Linked DNA regions of Homo sapiens: region 2 is linked to region 1. The links come from fine-mapping of genetic effects on plasma protein levels. Region 1 holds a variant in brackets. A gene starts in the other region. All regions are shown on their forward strands.

The links. PIP is the chance, under the fine-mapping model, that this variant and not a neighbour inherited with it causes the effect. Protein levels are from antibody-based Olink assays in UK Biobank. Linkage for the fine-mapping came from a reference panel and not from the study's own genotypes, which makes the PIPs less certain.
Region 2: it holds the start of CLEC4G, and the variant in region 1 is fine-mapped to the plasma level of the CLEC4G protein (UK Biobank, PIP 0.99).

What each region holds. Positions count from the first base shown.
Region 1 is chr11:89,480,820-89,486,361 of GRCh38, forward strand. The region is part of intron 2 of NOX4 (NADPH oxidase 4); the gene reads right to left. Among named protein-coding and RNA genes, the nearest start is that of NOX4, 7.8 kb to the right of the region's middle. The variant T/A (reference allele first, on the strand shown) is at 2,438.
Region 2 is chr19:7,731,044-7,733,644 of GRCh38, forward strand. It overlaps CLEC4G (C-type lectin domain family 4 member G), which reads right to left and starts at 1,067. Exons shown (of 9, transcript NM_198492.4): 1 at 1,005-1,067; 2 at 618-728; 3 at 223-276; 4 at 1-45. The coding sequence starts at 1,059. RefSeq lists promoters at 1,062-1,668, 1,062-1,374, 1,062-1,325 and a cis regulatory region at 1,132-1,141.

The sequences.
Region 1 (5,542 bases):
TCTGAGATAGGTAATTTATCTTATTTATCTGTTGAAATTCCAAGATTCAGTGAAGATTAATAAAAAGTATTAAGTAATGTTTTGTTGAATGAAATATGTTCCACCTCAAACTAAAATTCCACCCAAGAATCATAGCCAAATTGCCACAAACTTTTTGCCAATAGCAAATAGCAGTAAATAGCCTTCCTCTCTCCAGAGGATCAGGGAGGCAGCCAAAGGTCAACCAAAGGACTGAAGGTAACATGTTCCTACTGACGAGCAAACATACAACCTCATCATCAAACAGCCATTTATTAAGCACCCTTGTGAGCACTGAAATAATAGATCAAAGGGTAAATCTCTGTCCTAGGTGTCATCTCATATGCTCAGCATCTGTATGCTCAGCAAATCCCTTCCATCTTTATGTCTCTGAATTCTTTTTAACATATATATGTTATATATATATGTGTGTGTGTATATATATATACACAATACAATATTACCATTTGGTTCTATTCATAATATTGATGCCATTAATACTAATTACCATTATTTAATATTTATAGTAATAGTTATCAATTTGCTGAATGCCTATGTACCAAGTGCTAAGCACTTCACCTGCATTTTCTCATGTTGTCCTTCCATCTAAACTAAGAGTAGGGCTTAAGCCCTATTTTATGAGTAGGGTTTACACCTAGGCTGAGAGAATAGTATATCAAAATCACAAAGGGAGAGAAATGCTTAACCACAATTGAAATTCATATCCATATGGCTCCAAAGCCCATGACCTTTTCAGTAAGAAATTATAATTATTTTTCTCTCCAGAATTACTTAGGCAATTTTAAAATCAGTTTTATGATAAACACAATGCTTAGCATGATAGACATGAAGAAACACTGACCAGGAGTTAGAGGACCTACATTCCACATTCAGCTTTGCACTGAGTCCATAAAGAAAGCATTTAACTATATGAAATTCATCCATCAAACAGGGTAAATGGACTAGAACAGTCCACAGTTCTACAGGCTCCTCTCCCTCCAGGCTGAGCATTGCCCAGAAGAAAGTATATACAACTATGACTAGGACTAGGGCTACGACGACTGCTACTATTATTGGCCTCAGTGGTGTGCAAGGTAAAGTAGTTCCTCAATATTCCCTACTTCCTTTTCTGGGAGTCAGTTCCCTGAATTCATACTCTTGATGCCAAGATCTAAAAAATCAAAATAAAATATTGATGCTACTCCTCAGAGGTGCTAATTTATCTGATTTTCTTCTTTGAGGTAATGGAGGGAATAAAGGGTTGTGTAAGAGCATGTTTAAAATAGTTGTAGGGTAGGGCTAAGAATAAAGCTCGACAAACCTCTAAGGAGGAACATTACAATACCTTCCTAAAAAGGCCTGGGAAGGACCCTTTTGCCATGTCATTCTGGAATGCTAGTGCTCAGCTGGGCTTCTACAATTAAGGAGAAAAAAAAATACATTAACTTCAAATTAATTTCTCAAAATGCATGCTTAGCTTCCAGAGGAAGACTGACAAAGTTGGTATTTGTACCAAGTTGAATTTAACTCACAATGTAACTATATTTGGACACAATCTTTAAAGGGGTAATTAAGGTTAAATGAGGTCATTGGGATGGGCCCTAATCCAATATGACTGGTGCCCTTATAAGAAGAAATTAAGACATACACACAGAAGGAAGGCCATACAAAGACATTGGAAGAAGAAAGCCCTCTATAAGTCAAGGAGAGAGGCCCTCAGAAGAAACCAACCCTGCTGACACCTTCATCTTGGACTTCTAGTTTCTAGAACTATGAAGAAATTTCTTTCCTTTAAACCACCCAGTCTGTGGTACTTTGTTATGGCAGCCCTAGCAAACTAACAGAGTAGGTATTAGTTATACAAGTCCACCTCATATATAAGAATAATGCATATATGCTTGAATTTACTTCTGATCAAATACTTCTTAACAGATACAAAAAGCACACTAACATGCAAACAGCAAACAGAGGGAAACACAAACAGTATATTCAGCACCACCATGGCAAAATGTATAAGGACCTTAGACAACAGTAGAGAATTGCAGGTTCTAACACTATCTGTTTCAGAACCTCACCTGGAAAGCAGAGTGATTGAGAGCATGGTGTTCAGTTTCAGACAGGTGTGGGCTCAACCTGGGCTTCTCTACTAGTCAGCTATGTAACCTAACTACTCAGAAAGTTACCGAACCACTCAGAATCTCAGTTTCTCAATTCTGTAAAAAGCAAATAGTTCCTAATCTAAGCTTCTTAATTCTGTAAAAATCAATAATTCCTATATTCTACTGTTGTTACAAGGATTCAATTAAATATAAGGATTAAATGAGATTATAAAAGGGGCCAAGAACTGTGTCTGACACGTCATATATAATCAATAAATGGTAACAGTTGCTATTAGGTTGAGCCATATAAAATGGCTGAT[T/A]TTTGACTGTTTCTGATCTACCAATCTATATGATTCAACCTAATATTAATGTTGCAAAGAAACAACAGAGCACAATGGCTCAGAATACAAATTTGGTCAACAGATAAATGCATAAAGAAAACATGGTATGTATACATAATAGGATACTACTCAGCTTTACAAAAAAGAAGGAAATCCTGCCATTTGTGACAACATGAAAGGAGACCTGAAGGACATCAAGTTAAGTAAAATAAGCCAGGCACAGGAAGACAAATACCACATAATGTTACTTATATGTGTCATCTAAGAAAGAATGTAACCGAATTTACAGAAGTAGAGAGTAGAATGGTAGTTACCAGGTGCTGGTGGGGGTGGGAGGGGGTTGGGTAGCTGTTATTCAAAGGATACAAAATTTCAGATAGACAGGAAGAATAAGTTCAAGAGATCTATTGTACAACATGGTGACTATAGTTTATAACAATTTATTCTTGAAAATTGCTAAGACAGTAGATTTTCTGCTTTTATCACAAAAAAAGATAAGCATGTAAGGTAATATACATGGTAATTATCTTGACTTAGCCATTTCACAATATACACATATTTCAAAATATAATGTGGTACACAATAAATACAATTGGCATTTGTCAATTAAAATTTTATAAAACAAGAATACAAGTTCTGGAACCAGGATCTTTGGGCTTGAGTCCTGCTTCTGTCCCTCACTAGCAAGTTATAGAACCCCTCTAACTCAGTTTCTCAGCTACAAAACAAAAACTTGAAATCATGCCTTCCATACTATGGATGAGAGAATTAAATAAATTAATCAGTGCAAAGCTCTTAGACTAAAGTCTAGTATTAGCCAGTTATCACTGAGCACAATCTGTTATTGATATTATTCATATCATTTATTAAAAAATAAAGATTTGACTATCTTTGAGATTCATTCTAACTTCCAATTCTATGCTGTTTGGGATGATATTGATAAAGGAGAATTATGCAGTTAGCATTTAGCTATATATCACAACGAGGTTAAATATTGAGCCTTAGAATTCTGAAAAGTATTGTGAAATCAGAATAAATTTAAATAAAAATGCTCATAATTCCTTCACAATTTATTGGCAAGTCTCAAACAACTATAATACTAAAAATATATTTTATTTTGAGAGTAAATCAATCATTTTCGCTAGCTTCTTAAATTGCTAGACATTTTAAAGTATCATTTCACCTAAAATGTAAAGCTAGTAGTCCATACAGTGTGGGGTTTAAAATGTTCTTGCGTGTGTTCATACAGCTGTTCATTATAGTGGCTAATATTGGACTAAGGAGAACAATAGACTAAATAGTGACCAAGTCACTAATTCAGTAGGTGATAGTGAACAAATCACCTCAATCTCATTTTTCCATTTCGGAAAATGAAAAGTTAAGTAAAGATATCAAAGTTTCCTTCCAAGTCTAAAACTCTATGAATCAGTGTCTATTGTAAATAGATAAAGAATATAATTTCATCAAAGAAATATAACCCATTTCACCCATCAATAAACAAGAAAATTGTGTCTAAATAACAGAATGTTAAGAATAAAAACAAATAAGCAAAATAACACTCATCTAAAAATGTCCCCTGAATTGTTATCATAACATGTGCCTGAGCAACTCTAGCTAGTGATTTTACAGTCTGTATAATTAGGATTTAATGACCAAATCTCTTCTGAAAGTAACAGGGATCATATATTCATTCTCAGCAGAATTAAAGCTGCCCAGGCCAGCTGTGAAACTAACATTGACTTAAAATCCTAGATCCATTTGTCCAGAGACTCCAGTCTCTGACCTTAAGAAATTCACATGACATCAGATTTCTGTCTCTGTAAAATGTTATGATATAACTTCTAGGACTCTTGAGAGGGTAAATTAGTTAATGTTTCTAATGGATAATGATTGACTAAAGAAAGATAATCCCAGTGTTTCACTAGAAAGAATCTGAATGCTCAAGAGCATAGATATTTCAATAAAAGTTTAAAAAAAGCTTCAAGATCATGCAGCAGATCTAAAACAATATTTGTGAATAAAAGCAAAATAAAAATTAAAATCTTATCCTGACACCATGTGAATAACTAGTTTGAAATTGAATAGTTTGGAGGGAAAAATATAATATATATAACTAAGACACATTGAATATATATATATAACTAAGACACATTGAATCTGATATCATAAAATCATTCTCTTTTCAAGTTAAAATGTTTATGGGAATTACATGATATTCTTTAATTATTAAAATGTAAAAAACGCAACTCAAAACAGGTAAACATGAATTCAAGAGCTCCTATAAATGGTGTTTTGAGTTAAACTGCTCCAATATTTCCAAAAAAAGAAAAGAAAACTACATTTCTGAGAGTTGAACACAACCTGTTACTAATTTCTATAAAGTTCAGGCAACTACATTTTCCATTCTTGAAAATAAATAAATGAAAATGGATTTAATCTTAAGCAATCAATGAAGTGACTTATTTAAAAGGTTGCCATGGGGGAGTGGAGCAGGCTATTGTTTGGTTTGTTGGTTTGCTTGTTTCGGTGTTCATTTTGGCTTCTCTCAATAGATTTTTTTTTCCTCTTAGCTAATTTTAAGATTCCAAAACTCATGACATGTCACAATTAAACATCTCCTAGGAAGTGCACAGTCTGATTAGCACATTAACTCAGGCATAAACCAGCCATGACCACGTTGCCTCCACTCTGGATCAGACCAGTCTGGGGAAGGATAATCATGATGAGAACCCCCAATAAAACATATTAATCCCAATGTTATATTTTATCTTCTAGCAATTAAGATCTTATTTTTTCTATCAATTCGTATGTATTTTTTTTACTCTTTAATTTTATTACGAGAATAATAACCCAGAAATAAAAGTGGATACTCTAGTTCTGAGAAGTAAATACTTTCACCTTCATTCTCAAAGATTCCCACCTTCAGAAAACTCAGAAGATGAGACAGAAGTCAGGGAGATTTTTATAGTTCTATACCAATTTTATTTATTTATTTAAATAAATAAATAAATAAATTTATTTATTTAAATATTTATTTATTTATTTAGCTGTGTCACCCAGGCTGGAATGCAGTGGCCCAATCAT
Region 2 (2,601 bases), not on the chromosome of region 1:
CGACCTCCTCCTTCAGGGCACCCAGCGCCGCCGTCTGCTTCGAGGCTGGAACGACCCCCGCCCCAAAATGCATGCCCCTCGGGTCACTTGGGAGGACTCAGGGGACCCCCTTCCAGCCTCAGGGACCATAGGGCCCCCACGCACTCGAGACTCCATCTCCGGGGTCTCAGAAACTCCCGCCCCTCACGCCCCGGGGGCCCAGGCGCCCGGCTCTGCACACACCGTTTGTCCTCAGCAGGTCGTGGCCGTCAAGCAGCGCCGCGCGCTCCGTGGAGGCTGAGGAGAGAGGCTCCTGCAGGCGAGGCCGGGAACTCGGGAATCCTCCCCTCGCCCGGGGGGTGCAGCGTCCCCCAACTCGGGAGCACGGAGCGGGCGGGCAGGCATACAGCTCACACGATGTGCACACACGCCGATGGGAGACAAACGCGCGGGGACTCGCGCACATACGAGCACGCCATGTGCACACGCGTGAGTGCACACGGCCCAAAGATGTACACACACTCTGCTCACACTCAGACGCGAACAGGACCCCAGGATGCAGCTGGTGCGCCATGCAGTGGGGGTTTTCTGTCCCCAGGGGGGCCGGATGCAACACCTCCCCATTGAGAGTCACTCACCCTTGGACAATAGGATACTCAGAATCACAGCCCAAAGGACTGTGGTGACCAGGACAGCCAGGGCCAAGAAGAGGGGTCTCCTGCTCCAGTGCACCCAGCGTCCCCAGGGCCCTGGCATAACAAGGACGGCATGCTGGGTCCCCCAGAACTGAGCCCTGGAGGCCTGAGTTACTCCCAGGAAACTGAGATTCAGAGAAGTTAAGTAACTTGCCTATGGTCACACAGCTTCTAAGCGGCAGAGTTGGAATTGGACCCTGGTCCAACTGGCTCTATGGCCTGTGGTGTCTCTCCTGCACCCACAACCCTGGCCTGTCTCGACTCTTCCCTCCCCTCCCCCATCAAACCCCAGACACTGGGGCAGGGATGGGGCAGTCTCCTTGCTCATACCTCCGGGGACCTCCTCGGAGCTGCCGCCCCACTTGCTGTACCTGGTGGTGTCCATGGCGATGCAGGCACCCAGTCCTGGGCAGAGATATAAATTTCACGCCTGTTCTCACTGGACCTACGCACTCCCTTCCTTCCTTCCCATTTTCTTGGCCTTAATTCCTGGCAACGGGAACCCATGGACCAATCACAGGATTGGGCCCTTTCAAGGCTGGGCTGGGCTGGGCTGGAGTGAGGCCGGGCGGTTCCAGCCTCCTGGTTCTGGCCACTGCAGCTCCATCCCCAGGCTGGTGCTGGAGGCTTCTCTTTGGAGCTTAGTCACCATCTCTTATGGGCCTGGGGCTGGAGGCTTCTCTTTGGAGCTTAGTCACCATCTCTTATGGGCCTGGGGCTGGGTTTTATCCCGCGAGGGACACACTGAACCCGACCAAATTGTAACCCCTGCTGGCTCCTGAGAAAGCCCCCTCAGGCATAGCCCCCCAGGCCAGTTCAGGTCCCTTCTCAACTCCCCTGCAGGTGCCTGCAGAGGCTGGGTTTGAACCTGACCTTGATCCAGTCCCTCTGTACCAGAAGGGAACAAACAGTTTTGTTAGGGAGGTAGCCGGCGGAGCTGCAGGACTCTACCACTGTATGGGTTCTAGGTAGCTTCTAGAAGCCTTAGTTTTCCCCACTGTAAAGGAGATAGCGATGGGCCTCTCTCACAAAGATGCTATGATAAAGAAACAAGACAGTCTTGCTGGCTCACACCTGTAATCCCAGCACTTTGGGAGGCCGACATGGAAGGATCACTGAGCCCAGGAGTTCCAGACCAGACCAGCCTGGGCAATATAACAAGACCCTCATTTCTGAAAAAAAAAAAAAAATATATATATATATATATATATGAAAACAAAAATTGAAAAAATAAAAAAATAAAGACAATGAGGTTATACATGTCTACCTAGCACCATTTCAGGCATATCAAAAACACTCAGTGTTCATGCATTCTTTCAACAAACATTGAGCACCTGCCATATGCCAGGCATTGATCTTGGAACTGGGGCCACATCAGAGAGTAAAATAAGCAAATTCCTCTCTTCTTGGAGCTAATATTCTAGAAGTGTGGGGAGACAGACTCCATACTCAACGTAATAAACATAATTGAAAACATAAGTTGTATAGCATAGTAGTTCCCAGCTGGGGGCAATTACGCCCACCAGGGGACATTTGGCTATGTCTGGAGACACTTTTGGTTGTCACAGAATGTGTGTGTGTGTGTGTGTGTGTGTGTGTGTGTGCTCCAGGCATCTAGTGGGTAGAGGCCAGGGATGCTGCGCAAAGCCCTACAATGCCTAAGACATCCCCCATAGCAAAGAATGATCTGACTCCTAATGTCCATAGTGCAAAAGGTGGGAACCGTAGTATACTCTATTCAAAAGTCATAAATGCTATGAAAAAACATTAAGGGAAGAAAAAATCCAGTAGGATAAGTACTTGGCAGGACTGGGATGGGCACTAGGCAGTGGGCAGTGGCTAGGGTGGCCAGGGCCAGCCTCACTGACAAGGTGAAATGTTGAGCACTTAATAGAATGTTCCAGCCCCTCTTGTAGATATGTAAACA